Regions from separate parts of the Homo sapiens genome. Here region 2 is linked to region 1. A link means that fine-mapping ties the variant in region 1 to the plasma level of a protein whose gene starts in the linked region. Region 1 holds a variant in brackets. A gene starts in the other region. All regions are shown on their reverse strands.

Evidence for each region. A credible set is the group of variants that fine-mapping cannot tell apart. PIP is the posterior inclusion probability: the model's chance that the variant is causal. The UK Biobank Pharma Proteomics Project read protein levels with antibody pairs (Olink). The fine-mapping took linkage between variants from a reference panel, not from the people measured, so its PIPs are less certain.
Region 2: SCGB3A2 starts here. The variant in region 1 is the best candidate, but not a certain one, in a credible set for the plasma level of the SCGB3A2 protein (UK Biobank, PIP 0.60).

The regions. Positions count from the first base shown.
Region 1 is chr16:72,930,245-72,938,583 of GRCh38, reverse strand. All of the region lies in intron 3 of ZFHX3 (zinc finger homeobox 3), which reads left to right. Among named protein-coding and RNA genes, the nearest start is that of ZFHX3, 110 kb to the left of the region's middle. RefSeq lists an enhancer at 1,760-2,054. The variant G/A (reference allele first, on the strand shown) is at 5,120.
Region 2 is chr5:147,874,750-147,883,088 of GRCh38, reverse strand. It overlaps SCGB3A2 (secretoglobin family 3A member 2), which reads right to left and starts at 4,378. Exons shown (of 3, transcript NM_054023.5): 1 at 4,231-4,378; 2 at 1,441-1,643; 3 at 898-1,062. The coding sequence starts at 4,285. The coding sequence ends at 1,039. RefSeq lists enhancers at 7,546-8,211, 8,212-8,339.

The sequences.
Region 1 (8,339 bases):
CTCCCTGATGTTCTAGCTAGCTTCCCGAGGGACCCACCAAATTCTCCAGAAACTCCCTCTCCCTTCCCGCTGCCTCCCGCAAACACATTCGGACGCCTGTCTTCTTTTCCTGGCCTGTGCTTTCTTCCTCTTGGAGTGTGGCATTTGGAATCAAGTCACCTGGGGAGATTTCAGACAACAGCCACAAAGCCCAGCTCCGCTGAGGGGAGACTAATTACACAGCTAATTAATCCAACAGATGTCATTTTAAGTGCTCATTTCTGTGTGATTTGGTTACACACGCCCTGCGTTGCTGAGATGGGCACGGGGCCCTGTTGGAAAGTATCTTTTATTTTTTAATCAGACTTTAAGGAAGAGCATATTTCCTGTCCATCTTTTATGCTCTAGTGACATATCCCTGGTTTTCCAGAACTGTCTCTCCAGCTGCTGTACCCACACACGGCATCTCTGCCCCACACGGGTGTCACACTGTTTGGCACCACGCTGGTCTCTGCGTCATGTGCTAGGTGGTTTCACCAACTGGTTCGTAAACCTCTTGAGGACCTGGATTGCCTTCAGTTTTGTGAGTTTCTCAAGAATGCAGCACAAGTAGACATCAGCAGGTGGTTATCCGTTTCTCTCCATTTACTCTCTTGTCTTTACTGACAGCAAGTTTCTTTGCAAGAAAAGTAGCTGAGGAGTGTCTGAAAGGTGTTGTTTTACAAGTGGAGGGTTAAGAAGTATAGGACACCAGTGATTGTTGGAAAACTGAAAAAGTCGTGCATAGGACAAACAAACCAAAAAAAGGCTCTTGGAGGCAGAGGAGGAAGGTCAGGAAGTGAGAGGAGATGGTGTTTTCCTTCCTTCCCTCTGCAGTGGTAGAAGTGGAACAGAGAGGATGGAAAGGTACTGCCTTCTGCAGGTGGCGTGGGAGCAGCTGCGGGGTGTAGCATGGCGGTGGCCCTGAAGCTGGCAGCCTGTACTCATGGAAGTCACCTGGTCCTCCATGGGGGCTGGCACCCAAGGCCCAAGGCCGCATTGCCCAGCAACCCCTCACTCTGAATCATGCCCACTCTGGGAGTTGACTCACCATGTCCCCTCCCAGTTGCTGGATCCAGAAGTGACACTTTTCACCACTAGTAGGACAGGTCGCCAGTGGTTTCTGTGTTGCTGACTCTGTCGGCTGTGTCCTAATTCGCCGGACCTTTCAGCCGCCTTTGCCACTCTTGCCCTTTGTCTATCTCTGTTGGCTTCTCTTCTGTGACTTCACGATGAGTGTTATTATGCCCCCAGGCTTGTCCCAGAGCCCCTTCTTTTTTCTGTCTGTAACTCTCCCTAAGTATCTCATTCAGTCCAGTGGTTTTAAACCCCATCTACTTTCTGATGACATCTGAATCTGTCCCTAGCCTAGGCCTCTTCCTGTATCCAGCTCCCCACCTGGCATTTGCATTCGAATGTCTGAGAATGAACTCCGCAGGCTTAGCATGGTGCAGAAAGGACTCTGTGACCAGAACCCCCAAATGCTTATGGGCTCCCCCATCTCGGTTAGGGCCACCTCCAGCATATCATTTGCTTAACCCAAAAAGCTGGGAACTATCTGTGGGGCTCCTTGTCTTTTGCTCCCCTACAGCCAAACCATCAGCAAGTTCTGTGGGTGCTTCCTTCAAAAATACATTTGCACCACCACCCTCCCAGGCCAGCCCCCATCGTCTCTCTGTATTTCAACTCTCCCCCGCCTCTACTCTTGCCCTTTACAATCCCCTCTCCATACAGGGATTTTACGAAGAGGAAAATCAGGTCATATCACTCTCTTGCAAAGACCCCACAAAGGCTTTCCACCTCACTTAAGATAAAAGCTCACCTTTGTACTGTGGCTTACAAGCTCCTTTGTGATCTGAACTCCTCCCACCATGCTGACCTCATTTTACAACCCTCTCCCCTTTGCCCCCTACACTGCAGCCACAGCAGCCTTCTCTGTTCATTCAACATGCTAAGCTGGCGCCTGCCACAGGGCCTTTGCACTTGCTGTTCTACTGAGTGTATGTACCTCCTTGACCTTGACATTCAGCTCTCATTCAATATCTGGTCGTCAAAGAGGCTTTCCCTGACAACCCAGTCTCAAGGAGCTACACCATCACTTCACTCAAGATAACTTCTCTGCATTGACAGTGATTATATTTATTTTTCTTGTCTGTTCATTAATTTAGTTGTCTGCCAAGACAGCAGAGACCTACGTTGCCCCATTAACAGCTCTGTCCCTAATGCTTAGAACAGTGTGTGACACCAGCTCAATAAATATTGAACCATAGGGTACCAGCAGAGCATGCCGTGCTTCTGCCCTGTGCTAGAACAGGTACAACAGCCTCATGCGCACACTTGGCATTTCATAAGGTAGAGCCCTAAGGCATATGTTGGTGTAAAGTGGATGGCTTGTGTGGACCAGGTCATTGCAGAGCTTCTGCAGCCCAGGTCATTTACCATCAGCTTCACACACAGCTCTGTTCCTGTACTGACCCCTGAGACACAGCCCTGGCAAGATCATGCAGCTGGTGTCAAATTACTTTGAAAATTCCCACGTGCTGCTGGCCACCCGTGAGTTTCGGCTCTGTCCGCCCAAATTCTGCCAACTAAAATCACTGCTCTTTCTCCCCAGCACTCTCATCAAAATGCCTTGTTCCTTTCCCATTCTTATGATAGACCATATTTTTAGTGGTCTTTCTTCTCTGCTTAGTTGTAAGATCCTTACCGGTGGGATCTGTTTATTCTCACCCAACTTTGTAGCCTTCCCAGGGTCTTGGGGATATTAGGTAGACTATCAGCAAGTGTCGCCTGATGATTTGATGGCAAAAGATGGATTTTTTTTTTTTTTTTAAGACAGAGTGTCACTCTGTCGCCCAGGCTGGAGTGCAGTGGCGTGATCTCAGCTCACTGCAACCCCCCCCTCCCGAGTTCAAGCGATTCTCAGCCTTCCGAGTAGCTGGGACTACAGGCACATGCCACCATGCCCAGCTAATGTTTGTATTTTTAGTAGTGATGGGGTTTCACCAAGTTGCCCAGTCTGGTCTCGAACTCCTGACCTCGGGCGATCCGCCTGCCTCTGCCTCCCAAAATGCTGGGATTACAGGTGTGAGCTACCGCACCCGGCCAAAAGACGGAATCTTAAACATAGAAATTTAAAGATTAGGGGCAGCCCCGAGTCGCCTCCTCCCTCAGTTTCCCTAGAGGCTCCTCTCCTGCTTTCGTTCCCTTATCCTTGGGCGAGCGTCTTTGTCTGAATGATGCTTACTTAGTCCCATATCTGATTGTCCCCCGCCCTGAGAACCACATTTTTGGTGGCAGAACATATTCCCAGTGAGAGAAGCTCTGACCTGCTTCTCTCCTCCTGTCCCATGTACAAGCCACACGTCCTTGAGCACCCGCTATGCGCAGGATAACGTCCTTGCTTCTTTAGGGCAGTGACTTTTAAACTTTGTTGACGATAATCTAAAAAGAAATGCATTTTACATGAGTGACCCAGCACATACATATAGCTAGATATTCTGTATATTTGACTAAAACAGAAATTGTGCAGAATGATTTTATCCTTACTGCAGGTGCTACATTCTGATGCTTTCTATTACATTCAATTCTGTTTTGTTTTACAAATGCTGGTTGTACTCACAGCATGGATTTCATGATCCCCTGACATGATCCTGATTTCGTAATCCAGCGACTCTTAGCCCAGGGGCCTTTAAAAAACTACGCCTGCCTGGCTTGACCCCCAGAGGTTGTGGTTTCATTTACTGTCGGATTCTGATGTGCGGCTGCAGTTTGAGAACCACTGCACTAATGGGTCATGATCCACAGTTTAAGAAACTGTATTACTGTGATACGTAATACAAAGAGGAATTGATCATTCAGTAAGAGCCGTCAAATGCGGACACAAGAGTTATGAAGGTGAAGGGAGGGAGCAGCCACACCCAACTGGTTAGATCCAAAAAGACCTCTGGGAGGGAGGGGCAAGCTGGAGTTTGAGCAAGATTTAAAGAGGGTAGAATCATATAGAAAGGTGAACTAGACAGAGGACAAAGGCAGATTCATTCTTGTACTTACTGAACCTGTGGCTATGGTACTAAAATAATTTTAATAACTGGAACTTCTTCTCACATACTTGTGGATACTACTCTGTTTTATTTTTTTGAGAGAGTCTCGCCTTGTCACCCAGGCAGGAATGCAATGGTGTGATCTCAGCTCAGTGCAAGCTTCGCCTCCCGGGTTCAAGTGATTCTCCTGCCTCAGCCTCCCAAGTAGCTGGGATTACAGGCGCCCGCCACCAGGCCCGGCTAACTTTTTTTGTATTTTTAACAGACACGGGGTTTTACCATGTTGGCCAGGCTGGTCTCGAACTCCTGACCTCAAGTGATCCTCCTGCCTCAGCCTCCTAAAGTATTGGAATTACAGGCTGAGCCATCACGCCTAGCCTACTCTAACTTTTAAAAGAAAGCTGTGGCCGGGCGTGGTGGCTAACCTCTGTAATCCTAGCACTTTGGGAGGCTGAGATAGGTGGATCACCAGGTCAGGAGATGGAGGCCATCCTGGCTAACACGGTGAAACCCCATCTCTACTAAAAATACAAAAAATTAGCTGGGCGTGGTGGAGGGCACCTGCAGTCCCAGCTACTCGGGAGGCTGAGGTGGGAGAATGGCATGAACCCGGGAGGCAGAGCTTGCAGTGAGCCGAGATCGCGACACTGCACTACAGCCTGGGCGACAGAGCGAGACTCTGTCTCAAAAAAAAAAAAAAAAAAAAAAAGAAAGTTGTGAGCTAAACATTTCATAATAACAACACACTGGAGTTTGGGTCTTTTTAGTGTTTTGCTAGTCAGGAAGTCTGCTCACGTGATCTATTAAAATAATAAAACTACAATAAAAACCCATAAACAAAAAGAAAACTGTAGTTGAGGCTGTGCATGCTGGAGTAGGGGGAGGGGTGGAGTGTACTGCTTCTGCAGTTTACTTTGGAATGAATAAAAGATGTAAGGCACATTGATAGCAGGATAAAGAGAAGGCTGTAAAATAGACAGCAAAGCATTAATTTCAGCAGCTGGGTGGTGGATACTTAAGTGTCTACTGTATGATTTTTTTTTCAACTCATCTCCTTG[G/A]TTGGAGATGTTCATAATGCAATGTGAGGGTAAAATACTAAAACCTAATGGTGAAATGTTCTCTCCTCTCTCGGCTCCACTGTGTAGAAGCTTCGAGGTCTCTTCTCAATCCCTGCTGTCCTCCCCTCCACCTTCCTACTCCTCTGGGAGAGTAGTAATGATGATCTGTTGTGTCTCTGAAGACAGGGCTCAGATTGGTTATTTCTGTTTTTGCAGACGAGGGCATACATTTCACTAGAGGTAGTAACATACCTGGTTAAGAGCGCTCAAGCTACTGCGGGAGAGGCCATGGAAATCTAATGGGATCTGACCATTCAGGAGGTGTCTGGATGCCCACGAGATGCCGGGCACATGTTGGTGTGGCAGGTGGAGTGGGGCTCAGTGGGTGCTGCAGACTAGAAAAATTTAAGATAGGATGTCCATGCGTCTTAAAGGAAACCCAGATAGCTCTTGGGGTTTTAAGGAGGGAGAAGATGCCTGGTGTCAGGCTGCCTGGGTTTGAATCCCAGCTCCTGGGACTTAATTCCTGTTTGTTCATCATCTGTAAAATGGGCTAATAGAATGACTTGCTTTGATAGGACTCTCGAATGACTTAAATGAGATAATACATGAAATGCACCTAGACGCAGTCTGCATATAGCATCAGAAAGGTGTTAAGGACTCTGCTTTTCTGCATTAGATTTCCCATCGTCTTCTTAGACCACACAACTGACGTTATTTTTATAATTTGGTTTTAATTAGCTTTGAACTTGACACGCTGTTGGTTTGGAGAATGGAAAGGTCAGTGGATTTTTTTTTTTTTTTTTTTTTTGGTGCGGAGCAGGGAGATGGAATTTCCCTGAAGAGAGATTATGACCGATGTTTAGTGAAATGACCTTGAGCCAGTAATTTAACCTTGGCCAATCTGTAGTGGCCTCATCTGAAGGAGGTGGAGCTTGGATTCCTCACTAAGTCTCCTTCAAGCACTAAGTGTGTGTTTGTAGGACTTTTTTTTTTTCCCAAAGGGATATCTCCATCTCCTCTCCTAAGTAATGGAGCAAAAAGTGATCTAGTGAAGTACTCAGGAAAATTAGAAAGTGATTCAAGTCCAGCTGCATTGTGGCTATGGCTTGCTCCACCCCTTCCCTGAGAAGTACCTAAGACATCATCCGTTGTGAGAAGGAAATGATGTTACCTTCACTGACATAATTTTATCATATTGTCCCACATAACCTGGGAGGTTTCAGTATTTGTTTGTTTCTTTTTAAATAGGACTTCCTGCAAGCATCAACACACATGTATTTCCCTTATGTGACCAAAATTAGATGCAAGTTAGAACGTAGGCTTGGAAACTGGCATAGAGTACACAGGACACTCAGGGGAACTATACTCCTTGGTAGTTTTCATTCCCTTACATGTATATTTTTCTGATTAAAGCTAGTGCATATTCACTCTAAAAAAATAAAGCCACAATCTAGAAATACACAGCTTAGAGGACAAAGATGGAAAAACGAGAATATATTTGACTTTGGTTCTTGTTATGGTTCGTGTTTGTATCTGTTTACATTTTGTAACCTTGGCAATACCACAGAATATCGTAAAAGGGGGAACAGCTTCTGGACGCAAGTGAGTGTTAGCTGGTGTTGCAAAGCTCACATACCCTCGTTGCATAAGTGAGTTCATTTGTATCGAAAACCACAGTGTCCGTGGCTCGGATGACTTAACATTGCCTTAGGAATCTCACTTTAATGTTCACATCAGTGTCCTTGCTTGTGGCTGTATCATCCCAATCTCCCTTCACTGTAGGGAGCACCTGCAGTCAAGTATGCAAAACTGTTTCCATGGCAACCCTTTGTTACCCATTAATTTAAAATATTCCAAAATTTTTCTCCAGCTGAAACTTTTTTTTTTTTTTTTTTAAATGGTGCATCCCTCCTCTTCCCTGTCGGTACGTTGGAAGTTAATCTCCTTGGCTACTGAAGTCATGATTGTTTTCTCCCTTCCCCCGACCTCTTTTGAAAGCTGAAGAGTGTGTGTGTGTGTGTGTGTGTGTGTGTGTGTGTGTGTGTGTGTGTGTGTGTAATGAAATAAATGGCTAATCCCAGAATCTCTGATTACAGCTCTGAGTCAACAAGTGGGAGGAAATGCCTCCCTTCTTGATTTGAAAGAAGGAGAACTTAATGCGAAACCGTCTTTAACATCTGAAACGATGTGCGAAGTATGTGCAACAGAAACAAAATCTCACCAAGCTCATGACCTGCCTGATGATTAGATGCATAAGTGGATCTGGAAAGTATACTTGAAAAACAGAGCAGCTCTTTGTAATGTGAATGGTGAATTGAATGGGTACTAGGAGGACTGAGTTTTGGCAACATACGTTTCATGCTGGTGTCAAGAGGTGTATAAGAAATAAGTCCACAGCTTATGTTTGGAAACTTTCACCTATGAAATGAAATGCAAATCAGTGGCAATAAACATGTTAAGGTTGCAAATTTGAACACAAATGAAGAAATGCAAAAGAAAGTTTTGCATAGCAATACTCATTTCACGTGAGTTAGTTATTACTATCAAATATGATATTGTAACGTCCAGGATGTGGGGTACGGCTCAGTGATGGCACCTTGTACCACATTTTACATTTTATGACTGTCATATACAAGTCTTTTGCATTTCTTACGTGTAGGTAATGATTTGGTCATTTATTCTTACCAGAACCGTAATCTTCCTTATTTTGGCAATGTACAGGCATTATTTTTGTTTTCTTCCGTAGTAGGTTTTATGAGTATTTCTAAATGTATCAGTTCTGATCTGTTATTCACTATTGGCAGTGGCTGAAAGAGCTAAGTGCTGGCTGTGTTTTATAGCTGTGTAGCTTTCAATTGCTATTGTCTGCTCCATAGCCCTTTAATTTCTGAAGCATCCTTGCCATTATGTCACAAGCGGGTTGTGTTCAGATCATTTCGGGTCTTAGGACTTTGGGCCTCGAGATACTTTGCACTTATAAAATCTGTCTGCAAGAGATCACACAGAATCCATTATCTCCTTATCGCCCGTCCTCTTTTTTTTTTAAGCTTATGTTTATTTTTCTTTTTTCCCCTCCAATTCCAAATAGTTTGGCAAAGATTTTTAGGTGCAGAAGAACCATAAAGGGGTGTTTTGATCAGATGCCGCTCCCCTCCCTTGGGGTGACAAAAATGGGCGAGAAGCTGTGTTTGTTAGGAGAGTATGAAGTATATTATTT
Region 2 (8,339 bases), not on the chromosome of region 1:
CTGAGAAATGCAAGCTGCAGCAATCAGTATCATGTTTCCTGTCCTGCCTCAACACACAGCAGAGCAGAGCAGAGCAGAACAGGGGAAGTGGAGGAAATGGACCTGACAGCAAACAGTCCAAAGACTGACACAGGCCAGGTCTGAAGGTCGATGGTGGCAGACATTCTAGGTAGGAAGAAACTTGATTTTTCATTAAGGTGTAAGAGTGTTAGAGGGAAAAGGATTTAGTTATCTGTTCAGTGTGGCTGGAGTAGAGCGCATGTGAAGAAAGGAATGTAGATAAGAAGACTAGACGTGTAACCAAAAGCCAGATCATGAACAGCCTTGCATGCCATGCTCAGAAGCTTGAAATCTGCTCTACAGGCCGTCATGATATTACCAGAATAATTCCTTGGAAAGATAATTCTGTCATCACTGTAGATGACAGAGTAAAGGAAAGAAAAGATAGTTCATCACCCATTTGCCTAAGGATGATGTAGTAAAGGCCTAACTTGGTGGAAGGATTGGTGAAAGCTATTGAGTGGCCATAGCTTAACTACAAACTTAAGAACTAGCATTCTAGTGAAACAGAAGCCAAACCAATGAAGTTAGTAAGATGCTAGTCTTATCAGACAATATTTTGAAAATTATTTTTTCATTTTTTAAATGTAAAAATTTATTTAGGATGGGGGATAGGAAAGTGAAGGGTCTGAAAACACCGTGAGATAAAACATTTGGGAAAAATAGAGATGTTTAAATTAGAGATAAGGAAAGGAGAAGGAATGATTATGTCTTACTTAAGATTCCAGGTTTTCTTTATAAAAACAGGCTCTCTCGAGTTTATGAACCAAGGGAAAACTAATCTGGATACGTCCTTCTGAATAGAGTCCCCAGAAATAAAAATAGGACGACTGAAAATGTATTCATTGCTTTATTTGTCCTTTTCACGGGTCACTACATTTTAGGGCATTTGATCTATAATTGGTAGAACAGGTTTCAGGCAGGGAGGATAGGAGCATCATCTTCCATCCCCATCCACCTCCGCTCTTTATCTTGATGTCACACCAAGTGTGATAGCGCCTCCTGAAATGTAGAAGGACAACAAAATTTAGAGCAGCTTACATGTAATTCGCATGTTTCAAAACATATTCACTTCCAGTGTCCTGTTTGGCCACTATTTTACTGATGGGGAAACAAAAACTCAGAGTGATTACGTCTCATCCAAAATCACGAAGGTGGTAAATGGTATTGTCACAACTATAACACATGTCACTATCATTCAAAAACCCTTCCCAGAAATGTAGAAATTGTATTTTTCCTGAGATTCCAGGATGTGCAAACTTCCTATGAATATAATCAGTAAAGTGGAAATGCACATTTACAAGGGACAAGAAGAGGAGCTAGACATTCAGGGTGAGTATGCCTCCCCTTTGGCAGATTAGCCTCCCAAGCTGTGGTTACCAGCAGTTTCTTCACAGCTTCAGAAGCCTCTGGTCCCAGCTCATTTACACACTTCCTTAGCCCCTCCACAAGGTGCTCAACAGAAATGCCCAGAGTTTTCAGAAGAAGCTTTAATGGATCCATAAAGGGAAGAATGTTGTCCAGAGGTAAAGGTGCCAACTTGTCAACAGGAAGGGGCACTTTGTTGATGAGGAAGGCAGTAGCTGCAGGAAAAAGAGAAACCAGGTGAGACAGGCACATCTGGGCCCAGACTATGACCTCATCTTCTTTCCCTGTGTCCATCAATAGCTCCATTCCAGATCCACTCATCTTACTTCCATTGAAAACTTCTACCTCTGGCCCTTTGCACCTGCTGTTCCATCTCCCTAGAACTTTTTTTCCTTAGCTAGCTACTTACCTTTCTTTCTCACATTATTTGGTCTCTCTTCAAATATTACCTCCTCGGAGAAGCCTGCAATGGCCATAGTCACTCTCCGTCATTTATTTTTTCTTACCATTACCTAAAAAAAGCAACTCTTCATTTGCTGTTTTTATTGTCTTTATTTTCTCATTAGAATGGAGGCTCCATGAGAACAAGGAATGTGTGTTTTTTCGCTAATGCACCCATGCCTACAACTGACCCTGGCAGCGTAAGCATTCAACAGATCATTGTGATTGTCTGAAGGCGATGGTATTTTGTATGTGACTGTCTCCACAGCTCACAGCTTTGAGGCTAAAGGAGAGATGCTATAGTGAATCTCCACATAAAGACAGGAATGGACCCAACCACAGCCCAAGAAACTGCTCCCAACCAATTCAACTCAACGCTACAAACATAATTGAGCACCAACTCTATCTAGTCTGTGCAGATACATAGACAAATAAGACAAGGATGCCCATTCAGAGACTTCACACAGTCCAGTTGGTGATAGAAGATCTGTGTATGCCACAGTGTAGCATGTGCTATGCTAACATTATGGACAAAGCTCCATGGAAACACAAGAAAGGGATGACTAATTCTAACATGAAAGAGTGCTGCAGGAATTTTCCAGAAGTGCTGTTAGAGCTATGTCTTGAGGCAAATGTCAGGATCATAAGGTAAAGAAGAGGAGAAGCATTTTAGAAACATGACCAATAAAGGCACGGAACCATTAGGATAAAAGTGCATACACAGGATGGTGAGCCTTCTGCCCAGAAGGCTGGAGTGCAGATTTCCAATAGGCTATGACCAAAGGATGGAAGATAAAGGGAGTGAGGCTGCAAAAGTTGAGTGAGGTCAGATTTTTTAAAGTGTTGGATGTCACACAAAGGAGTTTGGATTTTTTTTTCCTGAGGGCAGTGGGGCGCTATCAAGGCTTTTACATAGGAAAATTACGTTTTATATCTTTGGCTTTAGGAAGATAACTTTCCCGTAGAAGATGAATGGTGGGAAAAAGTAGAGATTGAGGAAAATATGTACGATGTATTTTTTACAAAAACATGTGCAGATATATAAATGCACACATGCATGTGAGCACACACGTAAGAACACACATCCTCCTACTGGCTAAGACCTGCCATAGTTTATTTTCCTTTGGAAACCTATTATTTCCCCATTCAAATTATTAAAATGGAGCCTGTATATATTTTTTTAAATTTTCAATCACCTATTGTCCCTCCAAAATTCTCACCCAGAGGGGGCGGTATTTATTTTCCCCACCTCCTTTCTGCTGCCACTTTGCCCATAGATACCTGTCCCTGGACATTAGAGAACAGTGAAATATCCAAAACTGGTGAAGTTACAAATTCCTTCAGAAATTCAATAAACATCAAAAGCCAAAGTTGCCATTGTAGGTGTGGGCGGCAATCAATTTTTCATTATTAATCTCCATACTTCTTATTTCAGACATTTTGGTAAATATCTTCTCTGTATGTGTTTACAGCTTCCTGGGAGAAGATCTTCAAAGCCTTCTGTTCTCTCAATGAGCAGTGGCTATCATGAAATCTCTTTTTCCCATGTGCCCACACTGTCTTCCTGATAGTTACAATGATTCCTTCCAAAAAAATAAATCAGTTCCCATTCTCCTCCAAGAAGCCAGCTTCTATACCCTTACCTGAAAATTAAACTAATCACCCACCAATACACTAAAAGAGTTCTATCTGGATATCTCACAGTACGTTTACAGTAGTCTAGAATTATAGTAACTTAGGCAGAAGCCCTATCTATCCTACCAGAGTAGCACCTTAAGAACAATATTTATGACTGCTTCATGTCTAAATCTTCCAATGCCTATCCAGTGCCCAACAAATTGTAGCCATTCAATAAATATCCATTGAGTGGATAAACAGATGAATGTAGCTATCTCAGGAGAACCAAGCTAGCAAATTGGATAACTGGAGATGATAGCAAGAATGACTCCATATAGTTCAAAAGCACAAAAGAAATTATAAAGTCAAATTTTAACTCAAAATTGAGGAAAATAAGAAAAACGAATGGTGACCAATATCCAGCAGTGAAATGTGCTTTGTTGACCCTCCGTGGAAGTTGGCTAACTTCCTATGTAGGATGTATTAGAATACTTATATTGGGCTAGAGCTTAGATGGTGGGGATCTGAAATACTTTCCAACATCACCATTTTCTGTGATTCCAAAACTTCTTCCAACCCTGCAAATATGTGCAATTATTATGTGTCAGTTAAAAGTAAAATAAAAAAAAATACAATTCCTACCACCATATTCCACTGTCAGTGAGGCAAGGCTTACTAGTTGTGCTCTTATTAACAGAAAAGTAAAGAAATGTCACATATTCCAGATGTATTCCAGTTACTTACCAGAGTAACTACAAAGGCTGATGGTCACCAGCAGGAAGATAGTTACCAGCTTCATGACAGTTATCTGGGATATTTTTCAGGAGTTTAAAAATCAGAAAAATCTAGCAAAATCCACCAAGCCAGTGGTTCCACTTGCCATACAAAGTGTGATGGCTGCTTTTGCACACACATATTTATATGCCCATTGAGGACCTGAATTCTAGTCCCTACCACTTGACTCACCCCACCAAAGAAAGGGATAAATGTTATGTTTTCTCACCAAACAATTTGGAGGGTTTTCCACTTCCCCGTGTGTTCCCATGAGAAACAAAGCTCTACAGTACAGCATTCTCAAGTACCTCTTGCATAAACCCTTGCACAGAAATAAAAGCAGAAGGCAAAGAGCCCAACGAATCCTTCTCCTGGAAGAACATTGAAAAGAAGTGAAGAATTTATATTTGGATTAGAAGGAGTGTTTTCCTCTGGTTTTCTACATTTTTCCCCAGTTTTCTAATCATTTAAAGTTTGGAGAATCACATTAGCTGATGAACTACCCAGTTGTGAAAGCAATCTGGAGGCCACTCTGGTATAATACAGAGTCAGCTTCATGACATTTAGTGCCACATTTCTCTGGAATTCACCTGCCCCCAGCCCACTCACACATCTACTATGGTAAGATTTTCACACCTCTGTTACCTTTTCCAGTGTCAGTTACTTTGAGTATGTTCAGAGCATGTCTTCTCTGAGCCTTTGGATAGAATAATAGGCTTAAGATCTAAAATCAGAGTGTCTTTTGAAAAACCTGGGATTCAATTTTCACTGTTTGTGTAATCTTGGATTTGACATTTTTAATCTAGGATATTGGTCCTCTCATCTAAAATGGGAACATAAATAACACAACCAACCATAAGGTGTGTAGCTTGGGGAAAAAATTGTTTTTGCAAGATTCTTTGGCAATCAAATCCGATAAAATCATTCAAAAATACGTAATTGTAAGGTACTGGCTACAGGAGTAGTAATTTGTTTCCAAGGCTGTCTTTCTGGATCCAGGGTTCAGCCACAGGACCTCAGGACAACTTCATTTGTGAGCAGAAGTCCTGGAGTTCTTTGGGGCATCGAGTGGGCCCGACATGCAAGGAAGAGGGTAAGAAAGAACCATGAAGGGGTGAAATAGAAAGCGGAGTCCATATGGGCACAGGACCAGCTCAGGGCTCCCCGGCCACGTGGTACTGCTGGCTCCAGCCATTCCCACCACCAAAGTGGAACCCAGAAAATTTTGAGAAAACACACCTTAAGATGTAAGGCCAGAGGTTGGGGCTTTATTTGTCCTCATCTGAGGGTGTGGTATTGTAATGAAGATCTAATAAAATTATGCAGACAGAGCATTCTGCTATGCCAAACCAAAATTAATATCTAATTTATGTCACATTTTACTAATTTTTATGTTACCATGTTGTAACTGTCATTTCTTTATCTTTCTGCTACTTTATAAACTACTTTATAAACTACATGAAAGACACCATGAATGCCTGCCATGCACCTCAATCCTGCCACTTCTCCTTCTTTCTCTACCAGTACTGCTTCCATTTCTCCCACATATTCCCACTGATGCCAGTGATATTAATATACCAAGCCCCTCAAAGAGCCAAGGTTGGTGGTAAGATTGATGCCGTTGCCGGAGGAACAGGGTCCAGCTGCTTGCTCTCGTGGTCCAATGATGAGATACAGGTGAACTGGGAAAGAAGCGAGTTTATTTTTGTAACCAGCCACAGGGAGAAGGTCGGAGTAATTTACCAGACCAACTAAAAGTTATGAGTTTTTCCTTTAGTATATATAAATGAATTTCAAGCTCTATGCCTATATGCAGGAGTATTTCTACTTAGCCTAAATCTAATCTTTAACTAGTGGTCTGTGGGCTGGAAAGTTTCTTAATTTTACATGGGTCCTGGTATGGTTTGTATGTGCATGAATGCTTTTATCACTCAATCAGGTTTGAGGATGAGAAAGCCCAGGTAGGGTCTTAACGGGTTTGTTTCTGCATTCCAGGTCTCCTACTCAGGCACCAGTTTCTCTAGTTCTTCAATGTTTAACTTACACATTCATCATTACAGCAAAGGGCTTATGGAGACTTGGTTGCTTGTGGAGATCCAGCCTGCCACAATGACGCCCTTTAGTTTTTTATTATGGTCTCTTTTGGAATACTAAACCAGTGCTGCCCTCAAATTTGTTTGCTTGCTTTTAAATCCTTTCTCTTCACTTTCATTCCTGGCTCTGTATTATAGAAAGTTGACTTTTTAAAATGTGGTTTCCAGGCTTCCTTGCTTCCAGGCTTCCTTGCCAACTGCATCTGATTAAGTTAAGCCAGGGGAAGGCACAGGTGAAAGAGTGGAGAGAGAGAGAAAAGGAGAAGGGATATGTCTCCCTCTCTCCAATTCAGGAGCTATCATGGGTAGTGGCTGCACCCTCTCCAAGGCTCATCTCCTTTTGGAAAGGTCCTTTATCTGTGGTTCCCCCTGTGCCACACAGGCCAACATTGTTCCAGCTTTTACTGCATGGCCCCAGCTCCTAGACCCCACCTTCTCATCACTGTCCTTCCTGACCTAGAAGGAGTAACAACTTTCTGCATTTTCTAATCTCAGAGTTGATTCATCTTCTGCTTGGTTGCTTTAACTGCATTTCTAGCACTTTGTAAATTACCCTACATGTTGAATTCTTTCTGTGTGGTCACTTGGTATGGTTTTAACTTTTTGGCTGGACTCTGACTGACACAGCATCCTAAAATATTGTAGCGCTTTCAATAAAAAATAGGTTTTCCAGTTTCTAAACTGACTTCTTATAAAAGCCAAGTTATAAATCCATGAGGGATAGGACCGAGGCCTCCTCAGGTGAAATATAGCATTATACATGCAGAAATGCTTCTCTCTTTTAACCTCTGAAATGATTGGTACTGTATCAGGCTTCTCTGCTGGTCCTAGAGGGCAAGTTCTTTCCAGGAGATTCCTGAGACCCCTGGGCAAATAGATTTCTGTTGGGTCTATCTAGTAGTCAGCCAGCCATGCAGTCTTGACTGGAATGTACATGAAAAACATCAACTCAAAAGCACCCACAAATATCCACATACATATACATATATGAATAGTAGTATGTATGTGTGTGTACATGCAAATCATATTATGCATACACAGATAACCATCAAACACTATTGTTTTCACTCATTTGTTCAACAAATGTTTATTGAGTATCCATTGTGTCTCAGGCACTGTGTCAGCAATTAGGACTAGTGCAGAAAACCAGACAAGCAAATTTCTTGCCTTCCTGGAGCTGACAATGTAGTGAGATACACAGGCAAGAAACATGTAAACAAACAGAAAACACTAGTGGTTAGTGCTGTTGAAGAAGCAAATAGAAAGCTGTGAAAGACAACAAGTGGATTGGGGGTATGCTCAGAATTGAAAACATACTTGGACTTGTTCACTTCTGGGCTTCCTATGTTTTGAGCCACTGTATTAATCATGTCTTTTAATTCTGTATTTTTAACGTTTTGACCCCTTGGGGCCTTGCTGACCTTGAAAGGACTGCCCTTCCCAGGACTAGCTAATTCCTAGAGATATCACCAGGAGCATGCCTTTCATATGCAAATTAACCAATCCAGAGCCCAAAGCCCCAACGACCTTTATTGGGCTTGTGCACTGTGGGCCATTATTCCCATGCCTTAATCACCCCATGACCAACTAGGGACAGCCCCAAGATCCCAGAGCCCACCAAAATTATTCACACTAGCCCATTTAAAACCTGCTTACCCCATCTCTCCTGTCTTCCTTCAGAAACCACAATAAAGACTCCTGCTCACATTTTCCTCCACTCCATCTGTCTCTTGAATAACCCTGGTGCTTCCCGTGTGCCTCCAGCCCCATGGTGTGTCATGGCCCCTTGTATTGGGATCTGAGCACACTAAAATCTCTTTTCAACAGCAGTCAACTCCTGATCTGTTCACAAGAAGAATAGAATCTACATTTTAAAACAGCCATGTAGCCTTTTCTTGTGCCTTTGTTATGGTATTGTTACTGTAACCACTCAATAGATTCACCTTGCCTGCTGCCTAGACAGAGCCAATGTATGAAGACAGGGGA